3 linked regions of the Homo sapiens genome follow. The protein of the gene in region 1 interacts with the protein of each later gene in a biochemical or structural test. Each region holds a gene or a part of one and is shown on either strand. Other genes may lie near its edges.

What was found. Proteins that work in one complex are often made in the same cells at the same time.
Region 2: the proteins of TRIM23 (region 1) and UBE2D3 form a complex in vitro, tested with the Homo sapiens proteins (4 studies listed by BioGRID).
Region 3: the proteins of TRIM23 (region 1) and UBE2E1 form a complex in vitro, tested with the Homo sapiens proteins (4 studies listed by BioGRID, with this or other methods).

The regions. Positions count from the first base shown.
Region 1 is NC_000005.10:65,614,239-65,621,341, reverse strand, and holds part of TRIM23 (E3 ubiquitin-protein ligase TRIM23), read left to right. Parts: intron 1-3,086; coding exon 3,087-3,249; intron 3,250-7,103.
Region 2 is NC_000004.12:102,796,552-102,803,551, forward strand, and holds part of UBE2D3 (ubiquitin-conjugating enzyme E2 D3), read right to left. Parts: intron 6,088-7,000; coding exon 6,010-6,087; intron 5,009-6,009; coding exon 4,903-5,008; intron 3,025-4,902; exon of another isoform or gene 2,950-3,024; coding exon 2,856-2,949; intron 2,427-2,855; coding exon of another isoform or gene 2,378-2,426; exon of another isoform or gene 2,377-2,377; intron 910-2,376; coding exon 864-909; 3' UTR 1-863. UniProt on the Homo sapiens protein: Accepts ubiquitin from the E1 complex and catalyzes its covalent attachment to other proteins. In vitro catalyzes 'Lys-11'-, as well as 'Lys-48'-linked polyubiquitination.
Region 3 is NC_000003.12:23,801,069-23,808,954, forward strand, and holds the start of UBE2E1 (ubiquitin-conjugating enzyme E2 E1), read left to right. Parts: upstream 1-4,886; 5' UTR 4,887-5,020; intron 5,021-5,750; exon of another isoform or gene 5,751-5,837; intron 5,838-6,168; 5' UTR 6,169-6,201; coding exon 6,202-6,353; intron 6,354-7,886. UniProt on the Homo sapiens protein: Accepts ubiquitin from the E1 complex and catalyzes its covalent attachment to other proteins. Catalyzes the covalent attachment of ISG15 to other proteins. Mediates the selective degradation of short-lived and abnormal proteins.

The sequences.
Region 1 (7,103 bases):
CTCACTCTGTCGCCCAGGCTGGAGGGCAGTGGCACAATCTTGGCTCACTGCAAGCTCCGCCTCTTAGGTTCATACCATTCTCCTGCCTCAGCCTCCCGAGTAGCTGGGACTACAGGTGCCCGCCACCGCGCCTGGCTAATTTTTTGTATTTTTGGTAGAGATGGGATTTCACCACGTTAGCCAGGATGGTCTCAATCTCCTGACCTCGTGATCTGCCCGCCTTGGCCTCCCAAAGTGCTGAGATTACAGGCGTGAGCCACCGCACCCAGCCTATGAATATTTTTTCTATATTTAATTGAATTTTTTTTTTTTGAGGCAGGTTCTCACTCTGTCACCCAGGTGGGAGTGCAATGGCACGATCATGGCTCATAGCAACCTCGACCTCCTGGGCTCAAATGATCCTCCCACCTCAGTTTTTGATTTTTTTTTGTAGAGACAGGGTCTCGCTGTGTTGCCCAGGCTGGTCTTGAACTCCTGGCCTCAAGCAGTCCTCTTGCCTTGGTGTCCCAAAGTGCTGTGATTACAGGTGTGAGCCACAGTGCCTGGCCTAAAGAATTTGATAACGTGAAACTTTCCCCTTTTTAAAAAATGTAGGATAAATTGAAGTATGTGTATATATGAATAATAGACAGAATTATACGTGGATAGCTGTTCCCCAGTTGTTTGCCTTTTTCATGGGGAACCAGTGTTCCAATGTTACTGGTGTCCTATGTATCCTTCCAGGAAGACAATACGCTTATACAACAATACAAAAAAAATTTGCTCTTTCCCCACCTTTATGCAAAAATGAATATATTCTATTATTTTTCTTTTTGTTTTAATCATATGAAATCATTCTGTGTATATATGAAAAACTTCATCTTTCTCACTATCCTATATAGTTTTATAGTATTATGAATGTGCCACAATTTATTTTCCAAGCTGATATTGATGTATATTTACTTTCTTTCCAATTTTTTGCTAATGCAAATGATGCTTTAAGGAGTAACATACAGATTTTGTCACACGTGTCTAGTATGCTTGTAGGATAAATTCCTGCAACTAGAATTACTGAGTTATTTAAATTTGGTAAGTATTGTCAAGTTGCCCTCCATAGAAGCTGTATTGCTCAATAAACATTTCATAGCAATTAGTAATGTATGAGAGTGTCTGCTTTCCCACACCTTCACTAACAAAATGTTACCAACATTTTTGATCTAATCTGAAAAAAGTATTTTGATGTAGCTTTAATTTGCATTTTTCTTTCTTTATTTTTTTGAGACCGAGTGTCATTCTGTCACCTAGGCTGGAGTGCGGTGGCGTGATCTTGGCTCACTGCAACCTCCGCCTCCCAGGCTCAAGCAATTATCCTGCCTCAGCCTCCTGAGTAAACTGGGCTTACAGGCGCCCACCACTATGCCTGGCTAATTTTTTTGTATTTTTAGTAGAGATGGGATTTCACCATGTTGTCCAGGCTGGTCTCGAACTCCTGACCTCAGATGATCCACTCGCCTCGGCCTCCCAAAGTGTTGGGATTACAGGCATGAACCACCATGCCTAGCTTTAATTTGCATTTTTCTTATTATGAGTTAGATTGAACATCTTTTCACGTAAAGAATTTTCATCTTCTTTTCTCTGAACAATGTTATGTTTCTTATTTTTATTCATTTTTATCTTCCCAAACCCTTATTTACATTGAAGGACTAAATTTAAATTTCTTTTGAACCATGATAAGATGCAAAGCAATTATGAATTATCACTGTATGGTGAAAGATATTTGCATCTCAAGCACTAAGTCCAAGTTAATTGTAGAGTTAGGTTTAAAATCATAGTAGATTTAGTCTGATTTCTGCCTTGGGTTTTCTGTTTTTTACCTCGTGTTGTGTGTTTGATGATGGTGAGCTTAATTGTTTTTAAATTATTTTACTGGACTTTATGTAAGCAGTAGGTACTTGGTATTTAAAATACCCAGTTCCTGAGGGTTCTTTGGTCCAACAGGGAAAGACGGGCTAAAAGACCAAGGTATTAAAGTGTTTTGGGTGTTACGGTAGACGCTTATACAGAGTACATCGGGGCCCAAAGGACAAGTATAGTCCTTTCCTCAGTGTTAGCATGAAGAGACATGAAACAGTTTCTCATGTTCTGAGAACTATAAGCTGTTGGATATAGTTGGAGCATAGGGTCAGAAGAGTATGGCAGTGAAGCAATAGGACAGGGACCAGATTGTAGCAGGTCTTGAATGACAGGAGTTTGAGGTATGATTGAATAGTACAGTGTGGGTATTTTTAAAAAATTAATGCAAGGTATGAAACACTACAAATATACTTAGAAATAAGTGCTGAAAATGCTTTATTGCTATAAATACAATTTGTTGACTATTTGTAAAACATAAACTTATGGACTTGAGAATCAGAATATGCTGATAAATGGCCTTTCTTTTGACTGACTGTGTAGCCTTGTGCAAGTCATGTGTCTGTAACTAGAGCTAGAAAGACAAACTAGTTTCTAATTCAGAGCTATATTTATTGATAGAGAACAGGAATTGAAATTTAAGATGATTGCTTTTTTTGCCTTTGTATTATTTAATGTACATTAGATAGTAGAAGATACTTGAAAGTTACTTGCAGTCTTTTCTTAACAAGTTCTTTATCATTTGCAGGGGTAATTGTTATCTCAGTACATATTTTAGATTATTTTTGTTGAAATTAATGATAGTTTATTTGTGTTGAAATTAATGATGGGTTAGGTAGTTGCAGAGAAATTGCTTAAGAACCCACCTTCAGTAGAATTACATATTGTTTGTACAGATTCAGATGTAATGACTGAAATCATAATTTTCAAAAGATAACAAAGATGTTAATTTACAGCATCTTTGCCCCAACACTTAGTATTTCAAAGATATTTCATTATGATATAATTTTGACAGGGTCGGTCAAATGGAATGACTTAAAAGTGATTCAAGATTTTACAACCTACATAGTTTTTTTTTCATAGAGGAATAAAGTAACAATGTTGATTCAATATATTAGGTGAATTTTCTTATATACCTAAAATATGTATGCTTTTAAAATTGTTTAAAGAGCACATCCTTCCTTTTCAAATATTAGGTGCTAGAGTGTGGAGTTTGTGAAGATGTCTTTTCTTTGCAAGGAGACAAAGTTCCCCGTCTTTTGCTTTGTGGCCATACCGTCTGTCATGACTGTCTCACTCGCCTACCTCTTCATGGAAGAGCAATCCGTTGCCCATTTGATCGACAAGTAACAGACCTAGGTAGGAAAAGTATTTGTATGGATTTAAGATTGAAAATTGTTCATGTAATGCAAATGTCATAGGAAACAATGTCCTTCCACTTGATTTTTAGAATGATAAAATTCCCAGAAAGTTTCAGAAAGCCTAAGTTTCTATTAAGGTCAATAATCTTCAAGCTATAAACTATCTCACTCTTAGTTACTAATTTTATTTTATCTTCTGAGATGTTTATATTCAATACTTATCTGTAAAGAGCTTTAAGACACCTGAGAAAAACGTGCTACCCTGATTCAAATAAATAAGAATGTGTATCACAGAGTGAATCATTTGCCTGAAGCCATAAACCCAATAGAACAATGTTTTCTTTACAAATAAATAAGCCAATAATGAAAATACAGATAAGTCATTTGAGTCTCACCATGTTTTTATTTACTAATATCAAGGACAGAAGTGTTTGTAGCTTGTGATAATTACTCTTTATTTTCTGTTAAAATGAGTTTGAAGGGTTTGTGGCTTTTTTTTGCAGTTTTCTGTATACTTTTAAAACTTTTCTTTACGTATTTCAAACTAAGTTATTTTCAGATACCAGATTTGGAAATAATAGCATTTACTAACATTTGAACAGTTATTTTACAAACGTAAGTTCTGTAAGTTTACTCTTTTTGATAAGGGAGTTTTCTCCAAAAGAGTTTAAGGTTGCCATTTTTTTTCCAGGTCAGTTGCACTATCTAAGACAGTTTTAATATATTCATACTATTTTTCAAGTGGAACACATTCAAAATAATTTATCCACCAAAAAAGGAAGCAAGAGTACCTATAATTTTAGGCTGGAAGACTTTGAAATGCTAAGAAACATGGTTTTAAAATATTTTCTGGAGAAAGAAAAGGATTTTTAAGGTTTTGGTGATCTTTGATGTATATAAATAGTCTATTTGCCTGACAACTAATAGACAGTAATAACATTATAGATAGCATTAACTTACCAGTAGCCAAGAAATAATAGGGATTGGGAAAGTCTCTGTACTTTTATTTGGTCTTTTATTATGTGAAATATGCATATATCATACTATTTCTTTATATAAAACTATACTTAGGCCAGGTGAGGTGGCTCATACCTGTAATCCAGAACTTTGCAAGGCTAAGATGGGTGGATCACCTGAAGTCAGGAGTTCAAGGCCAGCCTGGCCAAAATGGTGAGACCCCTTTTCTTCTAAAAATGTAAAAATTAGCTAGGCATGGTGGTGGATGCCTGTAATCCCAGCTACTTGGGAGGCTGAGGCAGGAGAATCGCTTGAGCCTGGGAGATGGAGGTTGCAGTGAGCCTAGATCACGCCATTGCCCTCCAGCCTGGGCAACAAGAGCAAAACTTGGTCTCAGACAAACAAACAAAAAAACTATGCTTAAAGAAATAGTAATGTTTTTCAAATAGAGAATAGAACCTTTCTTCTACTTTTTTTTTTTTTTTTTTTTTTAAAGCAGAGTGTTACTCCGTCACCCAGGCTGGAGTGCTGTGGCGCGATCTCAGCTCACTGCAGCCTTCACCTCTGGGGTTCAAGCGATTCTCCTGCCTCAGCCTCCTGAGTAGCTGGGATTACAGGCACCTGCCACCACGCCTGACTAATTTGTGTATTTTTAGTAGAGATGGGGTTTCACCATGTTGGCCTGGCTGGTCTCGAACTCCTGACCTCAAGTGATCCACCTCAGCCTCCCAAAGTGCTGGGATTACAGGCATGAGCCACCACACCTGGCTCTTCTACCTTTTTGAAGAGCACTTTACCTTCTCTACATTAATACCACAATGTGAAGAGTTACTATCCTCAATGTTTAACAAAACTAGAAATTTATGACAGGGAACTAGACTGAATACATCCATCCTCCTCTCTGACTTCTCTGAATCCTGAATCAGAATTTCTCTCTAGTCCAAGAAGAATATGAGTAGTTATTAATACCATTCAGCAATATTCCTGATTTTCTTCTGCTCATATGGTGAAATTACACTTCCTTGCCCTCTTACGCATCACTGTGTGATGTTCATTGATCAGTGAAATGTAAGCAGAAGTGAAGTGTTAGCATCCAGGTAGAAGTTAATAAGAGAAGGTTTATGATTTTCAAAGTAAATTCTTCTCCTTGCTGCAGTGAGGTGGTCCAGATGGTTGGAGGCTCGGTAGGCTGTGTCCCTGTTTGTGGTCAGTGGGGAACAGAGTCTCTCTTGTCTTCCCTAATCCCTGAGATGTTGCATGATGCAAAAAATAAATCTTTGTTGTGTTAAGCCATTGAGATTATAGAGTTGTTTTGACACAGAATTAAGTGATATAAATATTAGGCACTACCTAGTAATAATGCTAGAGGTTTATTTGTATATATTCATTATATAGTGACTGGATATTTAGAAAATTGTCAAGACTATATTTTTAAATGATCACTTAGTGTACTTCTTAACCTTTATGTAAATAGATAGAACTCAGCTTGTTGTAGAATATGTGTTAAAAATTAAGGAGAAAGCCTTCTAGGGGCAAGGCTGAGGATAGATATGTTCAGTCCAGTTTTTTTGGGAGAACCACAACACAGAATGGCTTTTTTTTTTTTAAGAGCCAGGAGGAAGGGGGGCCCTGCAGGCAATGACTCCATCAACCTTTTATATATTTATTCATTTAATGAATATGTATTAGGTGGCAGCTATATCAGATGTTATTTGTTGCATAGGAGTTTACCATAACAAATATTCCTTCTGCTAAAGGATCTGACTTTTATTCATAGGTTCAGGAAGAGTGTGTATGTTGTCCTGGGTTACAATGTTATATGTATTTCTTAAGGTAGGTTGCTGCAAAAAGTATTTGAAAATGCTTGTTTTAGCATGTATAGTAAAAGTCAATGACAAAATAGGACTTGTAAAATTAAATGATAGAGAAATAGGCTGGGCACGGTGGCTCACACCTGTAATCCCAGCACTTTGGGAGGCTGAGGCAGTCAGATCACTTTAGGCCAGGAGTTTTGAGACCGGCCTGACCAGCATGGCGAAACCCCATCTCTACCAAAATATACAAAAAAATCAGCTGGGCATAGTGGCACACACCTGTAGTCCCAGCCACTTGGGAGGCTGGGGCACGAGGATCACTTGAACCCGGAAGGTGGAGATTGCAATGAGCAGAGATCACGCTACTGCACACCAGCCTGGGCAACATAGCAAGACTCTGTCTCAAAAAAAAAGTAAAAGAGATTTAAATAATTTTTTTAAACTGTGGCAAAATATATGTATAACATAAAATTTGCCGTTTTAACCATTTCTAAGTTTAGGGACATTAAGTACATTCATATTGTTGTGCAGCCTTTACCACCATAATTTTTTTTATGTGTATTTAGATTTTTTTTTTTTTTTTTTGAGATAGAGTCTTGCTCTGTCATCCAGATTGGAGTGCAGTGGTGTGATCTTGGCTCACTGCAACCTCCACCTCCCGGGTTCAAGCAATTCTCGTCCCTCAGCCTCCTGAGTGGCTGGGATTATGGGCGCCTGACGCCACACCTGGCTAATTTTTGTATTTTTAGTAGAGACGGGATTTCACCATGTTGACTGGGCTGGTCTTGAACTCCTGGCCTTAAGTGATCTGTCCGCCTCAGCCTCCCAAACTGCTGGGATTACAGGCGTGGGCCAAAGCACCTGGCCAAAAAATAATAAATTTTAAAGTGTGTTTCTACTTGGAAGGCTGAAGGATTCTTCTGTTTTTTAAGAGAGCATTAACAAAGCAATTATTTTGGTATTAAAAATGGGGAAAATTTGAATTTTAAAAATTTAGACATTAACTACTGAACTATATTAGAAATTACTTTTGAGGTATGGGTAAAATGATTAATAGTCCATTTTGTTAGATTTAGTTTTT
Region 2 (7,000 bases), on another chromosome or scaffold:
ATTGTTTCCCATACTGATTAATCCAGGCAGCTAACTCATTGGTTTATGCAACTTTATTGAAGAAAAATAAATCAATTACTAGCAGAGCTATTAGTTGATCACTCATCCATTGACAACTTGCATCATTTATTCAGTGCTATATTAAACAGTGTATTGGAAGATAGATTAACTAATAGCTCCAAGCCTCCTAACAATTTAAATGAAAATTACAAAATGTTTGAGACCCTATTTTGGAATACAAAGGGTGTTTGACTTCCAATTTCCATTCTCTGTAGAACAAGAACAGGTCATTCCTTTATTGACATGCATAAAATACATCACATTTTCTGTTCTGCTGATGCTATAAATTCAATACCAATTCTCCAGCCACATCAGTTATGAGCATAAAGCATATCATGTAACCTCAAATCTCTAACAGTGGAAGGCTTAAACAAGAATGGATGCTGCTAGAATAATGCTGTATCCTTTGATGTGACAACTGAGCATCCATCTCCCTCCCCCTCAGATGATTTCTTCAGCATGTTAGAGCAGTGAGGAATGGTTTTAGTCTCATAACCAAGTTAGAGTGAAGACATTGGCCACATAATACACATGCTCCATTTTTTTTTTTAAAAATTCTGAGTCTTGGGCAACTGTTCTCTTGTAACTACTTTACAGTTTCTAAAAGCAGTTATTGTCCAAAGCTGGAAGAACTTAAGTCTTCTCAGATGAGCATGTGAATGAATGGAGGGAGGTAAACAAAAAATAAAATTAAAAAAGATGAGGTCTGATAGGGGAGCAGCCGGATAAGAAAATCAAAAAAGGAACAGTAATTTAAAGTTTATTCCAGCTATAATGCAGGTTATTCTGACTTTAAGGTAGCATCACATGGCATACTTCTGAGTCCATTCCCGAGATATTCTGTTGTACCTGTAAATAAAGATGTTATTTTTAAAAGTTAAAATAAAGAATTCCTAATACTTTAAATGGAAGGGAAAGATTTCCATTTTATCATCTCCAGACTCATCATGAAGTCATCTCTAATGACTATGATTAGAATAAAAGCCAACAAGGGAGAAATAGCACTGGTACTCAAAGCAATGTGGGAAATGAGAGCCTGATGCTCTGAAAGTAGTATTTTAAAAACAACTAAGAAAGCAGCACTGAAAATTGGGAGGCTAACAAAAATCAAAAGACCCTTTCTTTCTCTACCACCGAGCTCATGCTCTAATTTTAACGTGAAGAAATTTTTACAGTTCATTATGGACAAATGTTAAAATAGTATACACATTCTATCTATCCACAGAAATTTCCACCAAGGCCAGAACTAGGCTTTTACTAGAACAATTTTATCTGAATCCTAGAGTTTGGGAAATTACTTGGTCCTGGATATTACAAGAAAAAATGGCTTTGGGACTTAGGTAGAGGCAGAAGGGGAAGATGACACTGGGCAGAATGACAAAGGGCAGTAATTTTCAAAAGGGGTGTGTGTGTGAGTGGTTGTGTTCATCAGAATCACGTGTTACTTTTAATAAGTGTGGTAACTGAGGCTAATAAGCACCACTGAGACCTGTTGAGTACAACAAGGGCATCTTCGTTTAAAAAGATCAACAGGTAATTCACACACAAGCAAGGTTATTACTCAGGAAGACTACTAACATTGATAAATACTATCAGCTTCCCCCTGGATTATACTCATGCCATAGACTACTTACAACAACAAAAAACAGTGATAACCTTAAGAAATGAATATATATATATATATATGCACAGGAGAATTTTTATATTGTTTAAATATTAACTAGCTTTATTTCAAACCAAGAACCAAATATGGTCCAACAACTTTCCTAAACTTTTTAAAAAGTTCTTTCTACCAATTCATTGTCATCTCCTAAGGATACTCTCTCAAAAAGCCAGCACTTTAAAACAAAGGCTTTATTTAGCATACAGGGAGCCACAAAGTACAGCTGACGCTAATGCATGCTTGTCAGTAATGAACATTTAGTTTAGATGCTTAGGCTTAAAAGTGTTTTTCCCTTACATTACTATCTCCCGGCAAAATTTGAACTAAACCACCACATTCTGTATAGGATTGGTACAAAGTCTCAAGCTAAAATTTAAACACCATGATAGTTTGAAAAAAAAAAAAGATACTACATAAATTCCCATTTCTTACTAGTGCTATTGTAACTGCTTTGCCATGCAGTACTTTCAAGCAATAACGGCTACCAGATATTTACTTTCACGTTAAACAGAGACCAAGCAGTTAAATGTACAGTTTTCAGAAGACTGCCATATTTGTTACCTTTTGTTAGTTAATACAGTGCCTTAACGCATGCAGCACTCAAGTGCTGGCAGTACCATAATAAGCGCACCATAGAGTGCAGATCCTCTTACCCTACAACATAGCGTATTTCTCTGTCCACTCTCTTGCTAACCTATTGTACCTAATTGAACAAGTACACTTAGCATTAATTATAACATATGAAAGTTATAATGGTTAAGTTGAACATAAATATAATTCAAATATTTGAGAAATTTAGACCAAATTTTTACAATAGTACTAACATTTTTGGAAAAACATGCTTGGGGTAAAGAAAAATTTGCTTTCTTCCCCAAAAGTTGAGAATAAAGTGATACTGTTTAACACGCTAGGAAAAAAAAAACAACAATAAAACATTTTAGAGGGGAGCATTCACTGTCACATAAGCTAAAGCCTAGTTAAGTTTTTTTAAATAACCACATTTCAATAGCTTTCTCCATATTTTAACTATTATCTTACTAAATATCAAGTCTTCTTGGCACTGTCACAAGCAAAGTATAAGCCTAACTCATTAAGTAAAACCACTTTTATAATAACTTTTTAACATACTTACTTATCTCTGTCTGTTTTATAGATCCGTGCAATCTCTGGCACTAGGGGGTCATCTGGGTTTGGATCACATAGCAGTGAACAAATGGATAAAAGAACTGCAAGAAAACAAAAACATCTGTTACCCAGTTTCAGGAGTTTGGATAAATAAATTTTTCTAAACCGTGTATTACAAAACTCAATCCTCAAAAGACTTTTATTAGTTTGTATCTTTATCTCAATGAGACACAGTTTTACAGAGATTTTGTTTCACAGAAGACAAGCTCCTGGTAAGTAAGAAGTGCTAAAAACAGGGTTTTGTGGCATGAAATTCACTGCAGACTAGCCATAAAAATAGTTTCTAAGATAGGCAACTGATGCCATATTAATATATATATTTTAAATAGGCATAAATGATATTAGAACTTGAGTTTCTTGGTACTCAGTGGCTGGGGGGGGGGGGACTTTAGCAAGAATATGCAGGTAACACTCATGCCATATTCATAGCCATTAGGCATGATGAAAAATCCATTCTTAGCCGTTGTCTTGGCAATTTCTGAGAAAAACCCTCAAGTGCTCCACTAAATGTCTCCTTGAACTTGTAAGCAAGAAACCATATTCCCAAGAGTACTAGTTAAATACAATGCCAAAATCTCTTTAGTACTAAGTGAGTCATCAGCTCTAGTTTTTACCTTAACCAGTTCAACATACTGATGTATAAGATGTCAAGCATTAAGGAACATAGATCGCATTCACTTTGAGTGCCTGCTATGTGCCAGTCACCATATATGGTGGTGCTGTTATAAAATGTTAAGATATAAATGCTTGAAATGGTTCTGACCGATTTTTTTTTAAAAAAAGCAATAGTATAAAAAAGACAACACTGTCACATATTTATTGACTACAGCAAATTTAATTTCAAACCCCAAATACAGCAGAATATAAAATTACCTAATATAGGAGACTTGGCTATACAATAACTCACAGAAAAAAGGTAGCTTCAGTTGTGACTGCTAGTTTAATAAGTTAGCAAAGTATGGCTGCCAAAAAAGTAAGTTGCTTTAACGACAAAACAATACCAATTCAATCTGCCCTTACAAAAACAGTTTTCAGTGTTACTGTACACTCCCAGCAGTAGTAGAAAAACTTGGAAACTGATATTTAGGTATGTAGCATGATTTGAAAAGAAATTAGAAAGCATCCAAGAAGGTGAAAAACAGGTGTAAAATTTTAAAAACACTCGAATTATGGCAGCATCTGCCTAAGTTGTTTCTTTTTCTCCCTTAAGTGATTCTACTCAATAAAGTTTGGGAAATGCTACTGCTACAGTCTCTCTCCATGAGATTCAAGTGCAGTATATACACATATGAAACTTTTATACAATGCCTTGCCTTTTGAAAAAGCTTTTTTGTACTTACTGAACTCATAAAATCAAAAAACAATTAATGGTGAAATAGTGTTAATTATTACAACTTCACCTGGGATATTCATGCGGAGACCGGAAAACTTGTTACATATAACGTAACAGATACCTATTAAGAGACCAGAATTGATCTACAGATCTTTCGAAGATTATATAATTTTAGACTGTCATTAGGTAGAAACAACCTATCATGGTTACATAAAACATGACTGAAGATTTGTCTAAAAATTAACCCAGGAAAGCAAAATCAGAATTTTCCTAGAGTGGAAACCTCAGGATTCAAAAGCTCTATTAAGTTTAGGTATATCATACCATTCTTGGTAAAAAGGCCGCAAGTTAGTGTGAGATGTCCAAGTGGTTTGGGATTGAAAAATACAGAAGTCTATTAAAATAAATTTTGCTATTATAAGATGAGATGAAGGTAACTCATTAGGCAAATAATGCCTACTCACCACAATTTGAATTTTAACAACTTCTCACAAAGTATCTTTAATCAACACCACTAAAAGAACAAAAATTATAAAAGTAACTTTATTGCTTCCCCATCTCTTACCAAAAAGCTGCCATAATAAAAATACTCAGATAAGTAGATCTAAGAATGAAGCTTTATTAGACAATGAGAACAGCTTATTTCACTAGAAATATTTACCTTTAGAAATTGTTAAAGCAGGCGACCACTGTGATCTTAGAATATCGAGACAAATGCTGCCATTACTGTTAATATTTGGATGATAAATTCTTGTTGTAAATGCAACCTAAAACAAAAACTTTTAAGTATTTTATTCAAATAAAAACAAACATCTTTTAAAGCAAAACTTAAAATAATCAAGCCACAATGTTAAAAATGTCATCTATTAGCATAGAAGTTCTAAATATTATAGAAACTGATTTTTACAATCTGACCACAACCCCCTGCCTCCTCTTTTTACAACAGAAACCTAAACTTTTGGATAAAAATTTCATTACTCATATGATGTAAAGTTCTAAAGGTTACTGTGGCCCTACCATATCATGAATCAAAGGGCAATTTAAAGGTATTTAACACATTCATTTATAAAAGCCCTAACTTTTGGATGTAACCAAAATTTGTAGACCATCTCATTTAAAGTTTCATTAAGTTACACAGGTACACCTGAGTCTGCATTTCCACCGTACATAAAACATAAACTTGAATCACAAAAATGGAAACCATCACATTGCACCTATAACATTACTAGAGATTGTTATAGTGACATGTTTATGACCTTTGTATATTACCTTTTCTAGTTATTCATACAGGTTGAATTTATGTTAATGACTGAAAAGTGAAGGATAATATGCTTTTAATACCTATAAACCAGTGCACTAAGCAACTCTAAGTTTTCACAAATTTACACTTACGTATACAAAACTATAAGCATAATAAGCATATGCTGTAACAATACGTGCAAATATAAATTGAAGTTGGACATTTGATGCTTACAAGACAACAAAAGCCCAAAAATCAGAATCTGTGTAACAATAATACAGATGAGGGCGGAAGCTTCCACATGGTCTGAATCTTGCAACATTAAAGAAAAGGCAAACCTTATTCCTATTTACAAAGCTCAAACTGAGGTCTAGCTCTTTAAACCAAAGGTTAAGAGTCAGCATCTATACATGAGTGCAATTCAACATATATATACAGCCTACACAGAACCCTATCTTCCAAGAATGCTCTATTCCTTTGAAATAAAGCATAAATCTATACTAACAGATTTTGAGGGAAAATACTTGCCTTAGGTGGTTTGAAGGGGTAGTCTGTAGGAAAATGAATTGTCAAAAAGAATACACCGCCTTGATATGGGCTGTCATTCTGTAAAAAGAAAAGTATGCTTAACTCAAATTTAAAATATTATTGCTAAATATTCCGTAACATTTGTTTCCAAGCATTTCTCTAATAATGAACCCAAATCACCTATTTACACTGCAATAAATAATCTATTCCATGAAAATTCAGTCTATAGTAATAGAAAAAAACTTAAAACTTATACAGTAATAAACCCTAATTTATCTAGTCATTTTACACGTCACCAAAATGTTTTTTTAAAAAGTTATCCAGAAACGCAAGTATTCTAGATCTCAATTCTCAAAAGTACAACACAGCAATAAAGCCTACATAATCATGTTTCAGAATAATCTGTAAACAAAATTTTACACATGTAGATTATTTCTTCCAATAGCCAGATGTGTACAAATGGCTTCACAACAGTCCATTCTGCCCACTGGCAAACCAAATGTTAGCTATTCCAGGTAACACACACACACCACCTTCAAGAGGAGAACAGAGAAAAGCCTAAGCTTCTCATTTTAATCAATACCAGAAAATACATGCATTGCCCCTATTTTATGCATGAGAAAAATGAGGCTTAAAGAACTTAGTCTAGTGTACAAATGGTAAATGATAGAACCAAGATTCAAACACAAGTCTTTTGAAGACCACTTAATGATCAAAGATACTGACCTACTCAGGAATTTAAAGTTAAAATGTGGAATGCCTAACTGCTTCTGGGTATGCAAAGAACCAATCCGAAGACATGTTTTACAACTTACATGAACTGGGTTTTTACCAACACTGACTCCCCTCTATTAGAAAGGCTTTGTATATACAGCTATATATGAGCCTTTCACTATGCCCATTCTGGATGTCAGGCACATAAAAAACAGGCCTGACACTAACACAGCTCATCTAATTCCTACCCTTCTGTAAAATAAATAAACATTAATTC
Region 3 (7,886 bases), on another chromosome or scaffold:
TGAAGGTAAATGCCCCAGATCACATTCGTCTTTATGGAATCGACCCTTGTTTTTGAACTTTCCTTATCTTTCTTACAAGGAATGGATTTTTCAGCCAAAGGAGAATTATAAAATGAAACAAGTCGATTGAAATCCAGTGAGTCCATTTTTCCCAGAAAGGCTTTATATAAATTCTTTATAAGTTGCAAACACAAGATTTTTTTTTCTTTGGATGGAAAAAGGAAATCTTTTCTTTTTCTTTTTTTTTTTTATGGAGTCTCACTCTGTCACCAAGGCTGGAGTGCAATGGCATGATCTCGGCTCACTGCAACCTCTGTCTCCTGGGTTCAAGAGATTCTCCTGCCTCAGCCTCCCGAGTAGCTGGGATTACAGGCACTCATCACCACACCCAGCTAATTTTTGTATTTTTAGTAGAGACGGGGTTTCACCATGTTGGCCAGGGTGGTCTCAAACTCCTGACCTCAGGTGATCCGCCCACCTCAGCCTCCCAAAGTGCTGGGATTACCAGTGTGAGCCACCACGCCCAGCAAAGGAAATCCTTTCTATTCAGCAATAAGGTAAGTTAAAAAACTATATTAACCAACGTTAACTTGCTTGACAATTCTTTGGACATGAAATTGGCCAAAGAGAATCTTTATGAAATACTTGAATTTCAGTGTAAGCAACAAGTCAAAAAGTTAAACCAAGTCTCCCTCTTTCAACTGTATTATTTCACCTCCTAGGGATCAACTAGCACCTTGATCTTCAAGTGTTTCTACTTAAATGTACTTGATACACTAAAGATGACTTGAAGGAGAGTTGGGTCATTCTGAAAACCAGGAATAGGTATTAATAAAAACTGGAGCCCACTTTCTCAAAGTCCACAGGATGTCACAGTGTAATACTACTTGGGCTTCTGTGACTGGCTGGTTTTCTAAAATGTAAATTGAGCATTACTATCAAAGCATTCAGTGCATATGTATGCATTTGCTTTACACATGCATAGACTACAACCGAAAACTGCTTTCTCCAAAGGAAATTAGGGGTGGGGGAAGGGGCAGAAAGATATTTTCGTGGCATACTCTCTGGTTTCTTTAGAATAATATAGCATGAAAATGTATTATCTATTTAAAATATATCCATATAGGCAAAATAAATAAATAATGAGGACTATTCTCAGGATGAGGGTGGGGTTGGGGAACTTCAATAGCAGTCATTAGTTCAAGCAACCATGTTACAAATTCAGTGATTCCCTTAGCTTGCTTCCATGTTCCCACTTTCCCAGCTGTCTTGATTGTTAATATATTCTCGAAAATATTATCAGAGACTACTATATTTATTTTATTTATTTACTTATTTTGAGACAGGGTCTCACTCCCACCACCCAGGTTGGAGTACAGTGGCACAATCACAGCTCACTGCAGCCTCAACCTCTGGGGCTCAGGTGATTCTCCCACCTCAACCTCCCAAGTATCTGGGACCACAGGCATGTGCCACCAGGCCTGGCTAATTTTTGCATTTTTTGTAGAGACAGTCTTGCCATGTTGCCCAGGCTGGTCTTGAACTCCTGGGCTCAAGGAGTCTGCCTGCCTTGGCCTCCCAAAGTGCTGGAATTACAGGCGTGAGCCACTGCACCCGGCCCTTTTATATTTAATACATTTTTCTGCAATGTAATTGAGGCTCTTCTCCCACTCCAATATTGCCAGAACTGACAAGATCATCTGTGGATAGCATGGGTCATAACAACAATTTTGCCACCAACTTACTGCATGACCTTGGATAAGACATACTGGCTTTTTTTTTTTTTTTTTTTTTTTTTTTTTTGAGACAGAGTCTTGCTCTGTCCCCAGGCTGAAGTGCAGTGGCGCGATCTCGGCTCACTGCAACCTCCAATCAAGACTCGCTGGTTCAAGAGATTCTCTTGCCTCAGCCTCCCGAGTAGCTGGGATTCCAGGCACATGTCACCAAGCCTAGATAATTTTTGTATTTTTAGTAGAGACGGGGTTTCACCATCTTGGCCAGGATGGTCTCAATCTCCTGACCTCGTGTTCCACCTGCTTTGGCCTCTCAAAGTGCTGGGATTACAGGCATGAGCCACCACGCCCGGCCAACATACCGGCCAACATAACTTTCTTTGCTTTGATTTCTTTATCTGTAACATGAAGAGTGTGAACTAGAAGATATCTTAGGCCCCTTCTAGGCATAAAATACTATGATTCCTTGAGTATATGTTTCTCCTGGAAGGTTTCTTATATTTTCATCAATTCTAAGTTATAAAAACCCCATGTCCTCTTTTCTGCCCTGGTGACGAAAAACAAAAACATAAAAGCAACAAATAACCCCAAACCCATGAACTAAGAAAATTCCACTAGAGTGGAATTATTAATAATTTACTTTGCGTAACAGCTAATAAATCACCTTACTTACAGATACATATTTGACCTTGCCAGTCAGTAGAGCACAGGTATTTCTGCCCTTTATGGATGAGGGAACTGAGGCTCAGGGAGGTCAATTTAGCTTTTTAGGCCTTGTAGTTAATAAGAAGGAGAGATAGAAAGTTGTGTATGAATTTTTTTTCCCCTAAGACAGCTGCATACAGGTCTTAAAAATAATTCGACATAAAGATTAGTCTTTTGAGAGGACTGGATTCTTTTCTAAACATTTTGAAGTTTTTATTCCCTGTCATCAGGTCATTCCAAAACGATAAAGCACTAACTTAAGCTAGCTGGAATTAGAGATTAGGGGGAACAGTACACAAAAGAGGGCAAGAAACCTTCCAGACAGGTGGTTGGGAAATCACTTTTCCTTATAGGAGGAGCTGTTAGATTTCATGATTTCTTTCACAAGGAATCAGTCCAACCCAAGCATCAGTAACACAACACAAAATATCATGTTCTGTTACAAAAGAATTCTTATTATAGCTGGTAGGCAATTTATGCAAACCAATATTAAAGAAAAAATTCACCTACTGTCCTGATCACTTCAGCAAATCAAACCTTTTATTTTCCTGTGATCTCTGCTAGTTCTTGTCTTTATAACACATGATTTTTTTACTGGTTGTATTCATAATGTAGACATATATTTTTAAGTATCAGAAATCCAAATTTTCATAGGAGGAAATTTCAATTTTAATAACTATTTTTAGATTATTTTCCTCATCCTGAGTTTATTTCATCTTCTTATTGTTTTCTTCTGAATTTACATCTTTTCATCAGAACAAAAAGAATACAATCAGTTTTTCAGAAGTTTAAAAAATTTTTTCAAATATATAGCAAAGAATGTCATCATTTTTATATACTCTACCAGGACTCCTGAAACCAAACACTTAAGAAAGGTTATGTCTGGAAATTTTTTCAAAATCTATATGCATTTCAGTGGTGGAGAAATAGTTCTGTCTGGAAGCAGGAGGCTGAAATTATGACCCTGAAGATTTCTTCCAGCTTTTGAACTTCTTATTCTATGACAACTCCTGGTAGATACAGGTTTCCTGGTAGGGATTGAGCAAGAAGCATGCACAATTACTTTATGAGTCTTGATAAAGCTGGAATTTCAGGTTGATGGTTAGAAGGAGTTCGGCTGGGTCGTGAGAATGCTTGTTTTCCTGGTTACTGGATATGCCATGGGCTGTATATCTTGTGTTGTCCTGTGGTAACTGAAGCCACTGTTGCTGTGGAAAATGATGGCAGTTTGAATGAGATAATTTAGAGTGACCTATGGAAATCTGAGGCTGTCTCCTTAATGTACAAGACCTTGTATGTGTGGCACTGTTGTATTTGAATGGCACACATCTCTTTAGTTCCCTTCAACTGAAATGACAAAAGGTGAGAAACTGAATCGTAATTTGATGGCTTAATATTAAAAAAAAATTGGCAAAAATGCTAAATAAGGAACAATTCAGAAGAATTGCTGATCATTTCAAAAATATTATTTGCATAGCATTTATAGGTAGCTAAAGAAAGAGAAAAATGGCTTAATATTTTAAAAATAATTTGGTCAATTTAGCGATCTGGGGATTCTGCGATCCCCAGAACTTTGCATCCAATTTCCAAAAACCAAACCTTACATCTAATGTAAAATGACACAAAAAATTCTAAATCCAGTCTAATTCAGTAGTATATAGCTTATTCCCAGTGATGTCTCACATTCGCAAGCCCGTTACACGTTGGTTTTACCTGTCACCAAAACCTTTGTATCACTCTTATAAAAAACCACATCACTTTCTATAAAAAGTGAGTGGAAGAATCTAATATTGTAAAACTGCACGTGCCTCGCGTGACCTGAGCAGAAAATTCCTAGTTTGGGATTTTCTCACAGGCATACCTAAACTGACCTCTGCTCCTAGCAGGTAAATTGCTAGAAGGAGAAGCAAGTGTCAGTCCAAAGAAAACCCTTGTTGTGTGATTTTTTTTTTCTCTTTAATCGCTTTTTAGGTGGAGTACCCGCTGCATTCTCTAAAGTCTTTGCCACCACCAGATTACCAACGTTTTCACCAATTTGCCACCTCCCTACTCCTCTCCTTTCCAAAAGCCCTCATTGGAAAGAACTTTCTCTCGTGACCCCCCTATTCCATCTAGTTCCAATCACTCCCAGCGCCCCCCATCTCCATCGGCTTCCCCTCTCCCGCCCAGAATCCAGGTTCCCAAACCACTTAAGAGAAAATTCACAACCCTCGCCCCCTTCCCGGGCGTCCGGAGGAGGCGCTGGGGTGGGGGTGTCTGTGGGGGACAGGGTTTCCTGGGGTCTCCTGGGTCTTCCTCGCGCACCCCCAGGAGGTGTTGCAGGGGGAGGGGAGCGCGGGTGGGTGGGACCGGGCCGGGTGGGGGAGGGGTGAGGGCGAGGAGGAGGAGGAGGAGGAGGCGGCGGCGGAGGAGTGGTGTGTGTGCGAGCGTGTGTGGCTGGGGGAAGCCATTGCCTGTTTAATAGTTGCTGTTGCTGCACTTCCGCTTCTCTCCCAGCGAGAGAGAGACACGAGTGGCCAGGCCCAGCCGCAGCCGCAGCAGCAGCCGCCGCGGCGGCACGGAGGAGCCAGACACAAAGAGAGGTACGGGGATCCCCCCAGCGGCCCGCCGCCCCCCGGCCGCGCCGCCGGGCCTCGGGGACACCCCTCGCCGCCTCCCCCGACTCGCGCCGCCGGGGCCGCCGGGCCGCAGGGCACGGGGCCGGCGCGGGGGGGGAGCGGAGAGGGGCTGGGGAGCCCCAGGGGTCCGGGGCCCGCCCGCGGGGGATGGGCAGGGACCCCGGGCCGCGTGGGGTGCGGGGGCCGCCCGCATTGAGGACGGGGGTCATTGTGGCTCGAACTGTCAGCGCTGCCCCAAGAGCCCCCCACTGGCCACCGAGGGGCCCGGGAGCGGGGGTGGGAGGGAGTTGGGGGAGCCCCGTTTTCCCCAGGGGCGGGGGTTCGCGGGGATTAACCCCTCCGGGGCGGAAGGGCTCATTGTTATGTCTTCGCTGCGGAGGCCGACCCCCCCATTCCCCGCCGCAGCCCCTATCCCCCTACAGGAGTGGCGATCGGGCGTGTGCTCCGGACCCCCGCCCGGCCGCATAGCTGTGAGCAGGGCGGCCAGAGGCAGGCAGGCCGGGAGGGGCGTCGGGGCGCGGCGCGGGGGGGCCTCGGGCCTCGTCGCCCCTGCCCCCCGCCGGCCTCTCCCTTCCCCCACCCGGGCACCCGCTCCCCGCCTCCGTCCCCCTGTTTCGGCTTCCTCTCTTACTCCTTCCCGCCCCTCCTCTCTTCCCGACCTCGCCAAACTCCGCTCGTGGCCCCACAGTCTCACCCGGGCCACCGGCCCCTCACGACCCCCGGAAAGCGGACAAAAACAGCCCCGAGGCCGGCCGGCCGCCGGGACCTTCCCTCCCTGCCCCGCCGTGGCGCCCCGCGCCCCCCGCCCTGCCCTCCTTCGCCTCCCGGGCTACTCCCTCCCTGCCCAGCGGAGAGCCCCGGGGGGCGAGGGAGGGGCCTCTCTCCTAGCTCCAGACCGTTTTCCCACAGCGTTCCCCACTTGGGGCCAAAAATAAACAAGCCGCGTCCGATTTGCAAAAGCCTTAATGGGCCTGCAGACTTTGAAAAGCGAGTGGAGGGCGGTGGGCGGCCGCGTGCGCCCCTGGTCAATGCCCTCCTGACAGCACCCGAGTTCCTTATTTACACTGGCTGCATGGTTTGTGTGTTTCTGTTTTGTTTCTCTCCCCCTGCAGGGGCTGTTTGCGGGGTGGGGTGGGGGGTTCGCTATGTCGGATGACGATTCGAGGGCCAGCACCAGCTCCTCCTCATCTTCGTCTTCCAACCAGCAAACCGAGAAAGAAACAAACACCCCCAAGAAGAAGGAGAGTAAAGTCAGCATGAGCAAAAACTCCAAACTCCTCTCCACCAGCGCCAAGAGGTACTGTGCTCTTTTTTTTTTCCACAGGCTTCCTATTTCCGAACTGCCTCTTGCTGCATTTGGTCTGCCTCCCAATGAGGATAGCTTAAACGCTCCTCATGGTTTATGTGTTCTTAAAAATGAAAGAAGGGCCTTGGAAGCCCTAATTATTTTCTCTATTGCTGCTTCTGTTTTTAAATCATTGCTCACATGCAGCTGTTGCGGCTTGCCTCTCGCATTTCTTGCTGAAGTTTGTAAGATTCCTCGTTACTTTTATTAGTGACCCCCAAATCTGATTTCAGATTTCTTGTCCTACTAATGGTTAATCTGTGACCTTCCCCAAGGCCATGATCCCATTTCTTAATTACTAATACCAGCCCAGAGAACTGCATCAAAATGAATTCTGTGACCATTTTACCTTCTCCTCACCTGTTGCATGGATGATCTTTTCTAAATAGAGCTTTCTTCACAAATTGCATAAGGAATAAGAAACTCATATTAGCAGGTACAAAATTTAGTAGGTGAAGACAGATGTTTTCTGGTGGAATTTAAAGAGATTTTTCTGAGAGTTGAGGCAAATGAATGAATCAGTAAGTGACTATAAAATGGTTATTCTAGGTTATTTTTGTGGTTCTCTTTAAAAACTTCAGTTTACCAATTTCAGGGAGACTTGTCTTTTTTTCATGCTATTTGCTGTCCTCATGCTGTGAAAATGTTACTTTGCCTTATTTTTTCAATTTAAGTGGTCTCCCTTTTACTTTATTCTTTTCCTCTTAAGGCCCTGAAGGTAGCTACTTTTTATCCCTGCCATCCTAAGCGGTCACCCTTTTTCTTTATTCTTTTCCTCTTAAGCCTCTGGAGGTAGCTACTTTTTACCCCTGCCATCCTTCAGTAATATCCTCTGATCGCCATGACCCTCAAAATCATCTTTAGTGGATTCCTAGGAGCTCTGAGACACCCTTTCATAAATCCTTCTGCTCTCAGAGTTAGGCAGTTGTTAAAAAGGTGGCAAACCAGGAAGATAGTAAGAACTCCAAATGATGGGATAGGGATACCCTTCTTAAAAATTTTTAAAATAAAGTAGAACATGAGACTTTAGATCTCTCCACTGAGTAGTGAGCCTGGAAGTCAGGGTTTGAGAGTTTGTTCTGTCATTCTCCCTGACTTGTAATTTGAAAACTTGGCAGTGTTTTGGTGACCTAACCATGGGCTGATGAAGGAGTGACTTTTAAAAAATAGTGTGGAGGTCTTAAGTGGCAAGGTGCCTCTGCAAGATTGTTCTCATTTTTATAGGTTTGGTTTGATTGTACAGCTTCTCAGGAGGCCTGACTGACCCTCACTGATTAGCCCTGTGCGGTTTTCCTGGAACCTGACATCTACTCTGCCCACTTGGGACGGGCCCTTCCTTAATACTGCGCCCCACCTCAATCCTCTAGGCTCTCTGATCCTCATTCACGTTTTGGCCTCACGTGCTCAAGCCAGGATACTTGCTTTTGGTAATTTGCATTTTTATATTTTGCTAGATATCCCTGGTGTACATGAATATATTTGGGG